Homo sapiens: one gene and its partner. The protein of the gene in region 2 interacts with the protein of the main gene of each other region in a pairwise test. Each region holds a gene or a part of one and is shown on either strand. Other genes may lie near its edges. The genes, in order: SLC7A14 and ACSL5.

Region 1 (3,914 bases), on a different chromosome or scaffold from region 2:
CAACACTAGGAATTACCATCTGTAAATGCAAGTTGTACTTCTCAAGGACGAAACGAAAAAGAAACAAGTTAGTAAAATTTACAAGCTGTATTTATAACTTTGGATATTAATTAAACAGTAACGTTTCTTTTCCACAGTGAGAAAAGCTAGAATGTGGAGTCCTGTCATCAGATGATGTGACTACATGGAATGAGGACTATAGCTGCTCTCTTAAAAACCTGCAGCCCCCTCTCTCAGCCCAGACAGTTGAGGTATTTATGCACCATCATAACATTAACAGCATCTTTGCTTTGGAAAGTGGGGGTTTATGATTTCTAGGGTAAATCCTCGCCTTTGGGAGTGTGAATGAGACAAGCGTATCAGCAACTGCCAAGACCAATCAATAGATGTGCATGGAACATTCTCTTCATCCCCAAATCAGAATGAACACAGTCCTTTAAAGTCTGCACTGCAGGTGAAATTCACATGACTCACAATTCCCTTTAGCCAATGTTACCGAAGTCAGTGTCAAGAAAACTTAACAGAAAAAAAAAAAAGCACAGAGTGAGTTCCTACCATAAAAATCCAGGCTGCCCCTGTTTCCTAGCTCTAATATAAGCCATTTTCTTTCCTTATGTGTACCAACATGTACTAAATGTCCCAAAGAGTAAGAAATTAGAACTACCTGTTGTCCGAAGACCTTAAGCCCAAAGCTATCTGTGAAAGTCCTATAGGGATTTTGTAATTCTGTGTGTGCAGAACACAGTTAAATTATTATTATTATTATTTTTGAGACGGAGTTTTGCTCTTATTGCCCAGGCTGGAGTGCAATGGTGTGATCTCGACTCACTGCAACCTCTGCCTCCCGGGTTCAAGCGATTCTCCTGCCTCAGCCTCCCTAATAGCTGGGATTACAGGCATGCAACACCACACCTGGCTAATTTTGTATTTTTAGTAGAGATGGGGTTTCTCCATGTTGGTCAGGCTGGTCTTGAACTCCTGGCCTCAGGTGATCCACCCGCCTCGGCCTCCCAAAGTGCTGGGATTACAGGCATGAGCCACTGCGCCCGGCCCAGTTTAATGATTTTGTACACTGTTTTAGTTGATACTGCAGAACACATATTCACCTTTGATGGGCTACAAAACTTCCACTCACCCCTTGTGGGTTCTAAGTCCTAAAAAAAAGAACACTCTATTTTCTTAGAGAAGTAATTTTGGCAAAAGGCGACTGCCTAGCTGTTTCAGAATGATTTCAGAATGATGCCTGCATTACTCAAGCAGGACAAGAAGAGGAAAGCATTTTAAAAAGGAAGTTGCTCTTAAGGAGAAAAAAAAATTAAAACAGCCTTTCTTCTAAAACTCTTAGAGAAAATAAAAGTAGGACATAGGACCAACCATTATGTACATGAAAGGGGCTTTTTGCTACCCATCCCCATTCCCAGCGAGAAATACTAAGTAAACTCCTTGGTGAAACTTCAGCTTTCTGGTTCCTGCGTGTGGTGGGGCCTGCGGTTTGGGATGCTGTTTCTGCACTTGCTCACTGTTGAATTTCAAATACTCTTTCGTGGCCAGGCCACCACTGGTTACCTGCTGGTGCCTCTCTCTCTTAGGATCTCCAGAGGTCTTTGCAGACACGTGGGTCCTCAGTTTCAGGGAGCTACACAGGTACAGGGGAAGCAGAGGCTCCATGAAGACTTTGGATAGAAACATCTTCCTTGACACGTCTTGTTCCAAACAGCATGAAAATGGAGCGCTGGCACACAGCCCTCGTGGCGACTTCTGGATGTGTTTCCTTTGCTCTCCTCTCTTTCCCTCCATTGGAAGTTAGGGACACCTCTGCACTACTCACTGACCTGAGGTTTATACTCCAATAGTGGACCCCTACCCGCTGCGTAGACTCCGTAAGCAGACCCCCGCTCTGGCTTCAGACACATTTCCTGAGTTCTGACTTTTCCACACAATAAGACATTCTAATCTGAGATTCATAATTAGGTAAACCTGTGTTTGGCCCTCCGCGGACTTTCCTCTGACATCTTGGGCCCCTGGTAAAACCTAGTGCGAAAGGGGACGGCAATTTTCTCCAGTCTTCTATGTGGATTTTCAACCTGATGTAGCTTCTGTTTATGTTGCAGATAAGAGGTGGTTTCTTGTAAGGTAGACTTCCAACAAATGTTGGATGTCTAACAAATGTTGGATTTGTCTTCCAATAAAAGAAAGGATGTCAGGTTTACCAACCCTTTTCAGCAGAATAGAGGAGAGAGATTTCTTTGAAGGAGTTTGTGTTTTGTTTTTCAATAATTACTAGATTTATATTCTGGCTGACCTATAGATTCTGAAGAAGGATGGATTGTTAAATTCAACAACTCCCTTCCGCCCGCCATTTATTTAAACAGATTTATCATGACCATTATGTAGGCATTTGATTAGCTACTAGTTTGTTACTAAGAAGTAGAACTGGCACACGCCTATAATCCCAGCTGCTTGGGAGGCTGAGGCAGGAGAATAGCTTGAACCCGGGAGGTGAAGGTTGCAGTGAGCCAAGATCATGCCACTGCACTCCAGCCTGGGTGACAGAATGAGACTCTGTCTAAAAAAAAAAAAGTAGCACTCAAGCTCAGTAAAACCTGGAGCTGAGATTTTACTGTTTAGATTAGATAGATATAAAAAGTTGTTAGGTTTAGTTGTTGAAACCTATTGTTGAAAACTTTAAAGTGGCTGTTAAATTGTGTTGCTTGTCCACGTATTAAATGGCTGTATTTTCTTAGGTTAATGATGAATGCAGACACAGGACTCAAAGTACAGCTATTTTTCTCTTTAATTTGTTAAATCAATTTGGAGTGTATATGTGGCTTGTTAGTTCCTTGCATAGGTAAGGAAGCCACCGTCTCAGCTTTCTTAAAGTTCAGCCTTCCTGGATTCACACTTTCGTCAGTTCCCCAATTATTTCCCACTCTCTCACCCGAGGAAAGCCAGTCAGCTCAGTGTGACATTCAAGTCTCTCTGTGAGTGATCCCTCACCTGCCTTCCTAGCATTATTTCTTATTGTTGCATGTATAAGTCATGCATAAATCATGTGCTCCAGGCAAACTAGCTCCTTGCTTTCTCTTAATGGAGGCACAGCACAAATTCTTAGCCAGAGGACCACAAACTAGTAGACCTTATTCATGCCGATCCTTTGCTTGGCATGCCTTTCTCTCATTTCTACTTGATAAAATTCTACCCACTTCACAAGTTCCAACACAAGTGTGACATTCTTTATGACCTTTCCAGAGGAAGAAGGCCTTCTTCATATTTGACCCCCCACAGCACATTACAAGTCCGTCATCTCACCTGACACATTCACTATTGTTCTTTATTTATATATCCCATTTCCCCTATTTGATTTTCCTTTTTAAGAGACAGGGTATTCTTCTGTTACCCAGGCTGGAGTACAGTGGTGTGATCATAGCTCACTGCAGCCTTGAACTCCTGGGCTCAAGTGATCCTCCTCCCTCAGTCTCTCAACTATCTGGGATCATAGGCACATGCCACCACACCAAGCTCTATTTCCTCTACTTCTTAAGAGCTGGATTTTTATCTGACTTACGATATCAATATCTGCCATAGTACATAATAGGCACTCCACAAGTAATTGTTGAATAAATATTTCATTTTCCTCCAATTCATTCATTCTGTCAATCATCAGGTATTTCTTGAATACACACTATATGCCAGGCACATGTAGCTAGCAAAATCTAGGTTTGAAGCTTACCTGTGGATTTTAATGATCTATGCTATTTCAAACCTCTACCTGCATGGGGAAAGATTTGTTCTTATCATGCAGAAGTACTTCTTCTTGTCATTACCACTAATTCTATTATTTTTCATGGTGTCACTCATTGGCAAATTTAGTAAAGCATGTCAGGGTTCTGCATTTATGTACTAAATATACGTCT
Region 2 (3,914 bases):
GAGCGTCCATGCAGGCAGAAGGCCGGCCCAGAGTGTCCCCAGTTCTGCCCTGCTCTGAGCTGTCCCGAGTCAGGCCATGTCAGGCTTTCTAACGTGCTCGGGGACTTCACTTCCTGGTTTTAATTTTTTTTTTCACAACTGAAAGTGGAAGTGTTCTGACCAGGAGGGGAGAAGCTGCCAAAGCTACCCTGGCTCCGTGTCAAAGCCTTTCACCTCAGCCCCTAAGGGCCGACACAAAAGCCAGCTTGCCTCAACACAGTTGACCCTGCCCTCCTGTGGCCTATCATCTTTCAACTAAGATGAAAACAAACAAACTAAAATGACTTGAGGTGCCCCCTCAGATCAGAAGCCTCACAGAGGCAGAGGTGACGCTGTTCCCTGCTGGATTCGGAGGACAGGAAAGTCTGGCTAGAGGGTACCTCAGCCCTCAGACCCACACAAACACCTTCTACCCCGCCTCTCTCCAGTCGCCAGAGCTGCCTGCCTTGGTCTCTGAAGAAGTTCTGGCAAAGCCAAGAAAATAAGCAAGTCAGGAACGACAGGGCTGTGAGTCGTTCAATTGGCATGGTTTCTTTCCCTCTGATACAGTCACACCTCAAAACTTAACTTAAAAATCGATTCTTTCGCCTTGGTCACCCCCAGTATTACCAGGACCTGTATTAGTCTCATTTTTGATCCGCCTAAGGCTGTGGCTACAGGGGGGCCCTGGAGCTACCATTCTCAGATTAGGAAGCCGAAATGACAAATTTTCCTGCCCCTTCCCCACCTCACAGATACCTCAGAATGAAGCAGCACTTTCTCCAGCCTCGATCCCCCACGAAGGCTCACAGGAAGTTCAGCATGATCCTGGCTCTTTGCTGGAGCTAGATTAGGGTTTGTTCTTTCTACAGAGCAGTTCTTAAAAGCTTCCTACTAAGGAAGCCAGGGTGAGCTGTGCCACAGTCTCAGAGAACACAAGAGCTGAGCCCTTGGCCTCTGGGGAGCCGCCTTTGGACATGGAAGAAAGATGAAGGGCTGGGAGACGAAGTGGGGCCTGTGGCATTCCATCCTCTGGCTCATCTCACGGCTGGAGGAGCACTTGTCATTTGCTTAGTTTCAGGAACTCAGCTCCCCAAGAGGCAACTTCCTCTAGAGGAGAGCAGAGGATGGCAGAGTGGGTGTCGAATCTCAGCCACACTAATACCTCTGAGCCCTTCACCGGGTGCTGTCTTCCTTCACCAAAGGGCTCAGGGCCAGGGGAAGATGAGGTTTTATTTCTTTTTTTTTTATTGACCTCCTCCAGTAAAAATGCTCAAGTTCAGGAAGGTTGAGTCATTCTAAAGGCCCATCAGAGTTGTATTCCTATCAATCCTCTGTGCACATGAGTGACACCCTCAGGATTTCAGGGGGTAACTGAAAGCTTTGGCAACCCACAACAATTCTGCATTATTGGGCAGGCTGTGGAAACTGACCAATCAAGTCTCAAATTCTAGCCACACCACCTTGGAGCTATGTAGCTTAGGCCATGCTGTTTAACAGCCTGGAGACGCACTATGCCTCTGTGAAATGGGAAGGATACCACCTGCTTTATAGGATGAGATACACCAATGAAGTAACATACATAATCTACCCAGAACAGTCCCCAGCACCTAATCGAATATCTGCTGATTCCCTTCCTCTCTGTCTGCCAAATGGGACTCTCTGCCCTCAGCAGCTGACGCACGATCCTTCTAACTACACTGAGACAGAAATTTCTTAATGGAAGATGAAGGAGACCCACATTCTGGCTTGGTGTGCTTTAGTACACTTACCAAAATCAGTGTTCCCTTCCAATTCCATCCCCTGCTAGCATTTGGATAGCTCATATATCTCCACCCCTTTTCCAACTGATTTTTTTCTTTGCCTCCCACACAAGTCAGCTGAGATTACTATTCAACTAAATGTAATTTCATGTTATTAAAGAGCCTTAGGTTGAGCATAACAAATCCCACTTTCTTTCCCCACACCAATCCCCTCCCTACTATCTCACAGATATATTCAATATAGTGCAGGTAGTATCATTGCAGCTTACCTTGGAAGAAGACTCTCCCTTCCTGGGTCCAGGAAGTGCTCCCCTCACAGCTGGCTGTATTGATTCAGCACCACATTCAGGCACTTCTACTCTTTCCACAGCTCCTAGGACTGACTGGGACACACCCGAAGCTACTGTGTACTGTCCTGAGAGTGGCCAACACACTCCCCTGGAACCTTTGAATCTGTCACAACAGAAGTTCAAAGGTAGAAGTTACCTGTTCAAACACTTGTAGTAACCTCTGACAGTAAGAAAAGCAGTGTTGGGCAAAAGATTAAAACAAGAGATTGTTATGCAATGGGCTTAAGCGGGAAAAAAAAAAAAGACGGCCCTTAGTTCAGAAAGCTAACGTTTACCAAGAGAAACCTTCGATAAAGCTCTACCTCAGGGGAAGGAGAAGGGGTAGACAGGGCTTTGCATCTGCTTTGGGGGCACAATCCTTGAGACTGTGATAGGAAGAGGAAGGTCTAGATTACTAGAAGAAAAAGGGCTCCTTGAGATCAGAGTGAGAGAAAAATGAGAAGCCACTTTAATTGGCTCAAGCTATAACTTTAGGATTCAGACTAAGCAGAGGTGTGCATTTGCAGACCAGCTATCTTCTAGAAGGGACCACTGCCCCCTTCAGAATTAGAACGTCTCCAAGACAACCAAATGAGCCAAATCAGTCTAGAGTCTAGGCTGAGAGACAAGCCTAGGACGGTTGTTTTTAGGATTCGGAATCACGAACACAGTCTGCAGCACACATAGTTTAGCAAGGCGCTAGAATAGGAAGCATTGCTTCCTGGCTAACACGGTGAAACCCCGTCTCTACTGAATACACAAAAAATTAGCCGGGCGTGGTGGTGGGCCCCTGTAGTCCCAGCTACTTGGGAGGCTGAGGCAGGAGAATGGTGTGAACCCGGGAGGTGGAGCTTGCAGTGAGCCAAGATCGCGCCACTGCACTCCAGCCTGGGCGACACAGCGAGACTCTGTCTCAAAAAAAAAAAAAAAAAAAGAAGCATTGCTACTGCGTCATGGCTCAGCCATCCTACTCTCTCCTTTTTTTTTTTTTTTTTTTTTTTTGAGACGGAGTCTCACCGCAACCTCCACTTCCTGAGTTCAAGCAATTCTCCTGCCTCAGCCTCTGGAGTGGCTGGGATTACAGGCATGCACCACAATGCCTGGCTAATTTTTTTTTTTTTTTTTGTATTTTTAGCAGAGACAGGGTTTCACCATGTTGGCCAGGCTGGTCTCGAACTCCTGACTTCAAGTGATCTGCCTGCCTCGGCCTCCCGAAGTGCTGGGATTATAGGCATGAGCCACCATGCCCAGCCTCTCTTTCCACTTTGAAGTTCTCTAGTCACCATTCTTGATTCCAAGATCATTAGGACTGCAAGGCATCATTACTAAACAAAAACAGTGGGTAGAAATGAAAGAAACCCTGGAGATGATGTGCAAACTTACTGTATAGGTGAGGCCAGTGAGGCCTTTTCAGGTGAAAGAAGGCTTCTGGAATCACACAACCAGTCGGTCAAGACAGCACCTGACTCAGAGTCATGAGAACCCCTGCAGTGCCTTGGCCCCTATGCTGCCCCATTGATCTGTGTATGTTTAGCTACCAGAATGAAGCCGCGGACCCTCGCAGTGAGTGTTACAGTTCTTAAAGGCGGTGTGTCTAGAGTTTGTTCCTTCTGATGTTCAGATGTGTTCAGAGTTTCTTCCTTCTGGTGGGTTTGTGGTCTTGCTGGCTCAGGAGTAAAGCTACAGACCTTTGCAGTGAGCATTACAGCTCATAAAAGCAGCGTAGACCCAAAGAGTGAGCAGTAGCAAGATTTATTGCAAAGAGCTAAAGAACAAACCTTCCACAGTGTGAAAAGAACCCCAG

What was found.
Region 1: the proteins of ACSL5 (region 2) and SLC7A14 interact in binary tests that used the Homo sapiens proteins (3 or more experiments, as listed by UniProt).

What each region holds. Positions count from the first base shown.
Region 1 is NC_000003.12:170,460,162-170,464,075, forward strand, and holds part of SLC7A14 (solute carrier family 7 member 14), read right to left. Parts: 3' UTR 1-3,914. UniProt on the Homo sapiens protein: Imports 4-aminobutanoate (GABA) into lysosomes. May act as a GABA sensor that regulates mTORC2-dependent INS signaling and gluconeogenesis. The transport mechanism and substrate selectivity remain to be elucidated.
Region 2 is NC_000010.11:112,372,406-112,376,319, reverse strand, and holds the start of ACSL5 (long-chain-fatty-acid--CoA ligase 5), read right to left. Parts: upstream 2,205-3,914; 5' UTR 2,051-2,204; intron 1,053-2,050; exon of another isoform or gene 778-1,052; intron 116-777; exon of another isoform or gene 11-115; coding exon of another isoform or gene 1-10. UniProt on the Homo sapiens protein: Catalyzes the conversion of long-chain fatty acids to their active form acyl-CoAs for both synthesis of cellular lipids, and degradation via beta-oxidation.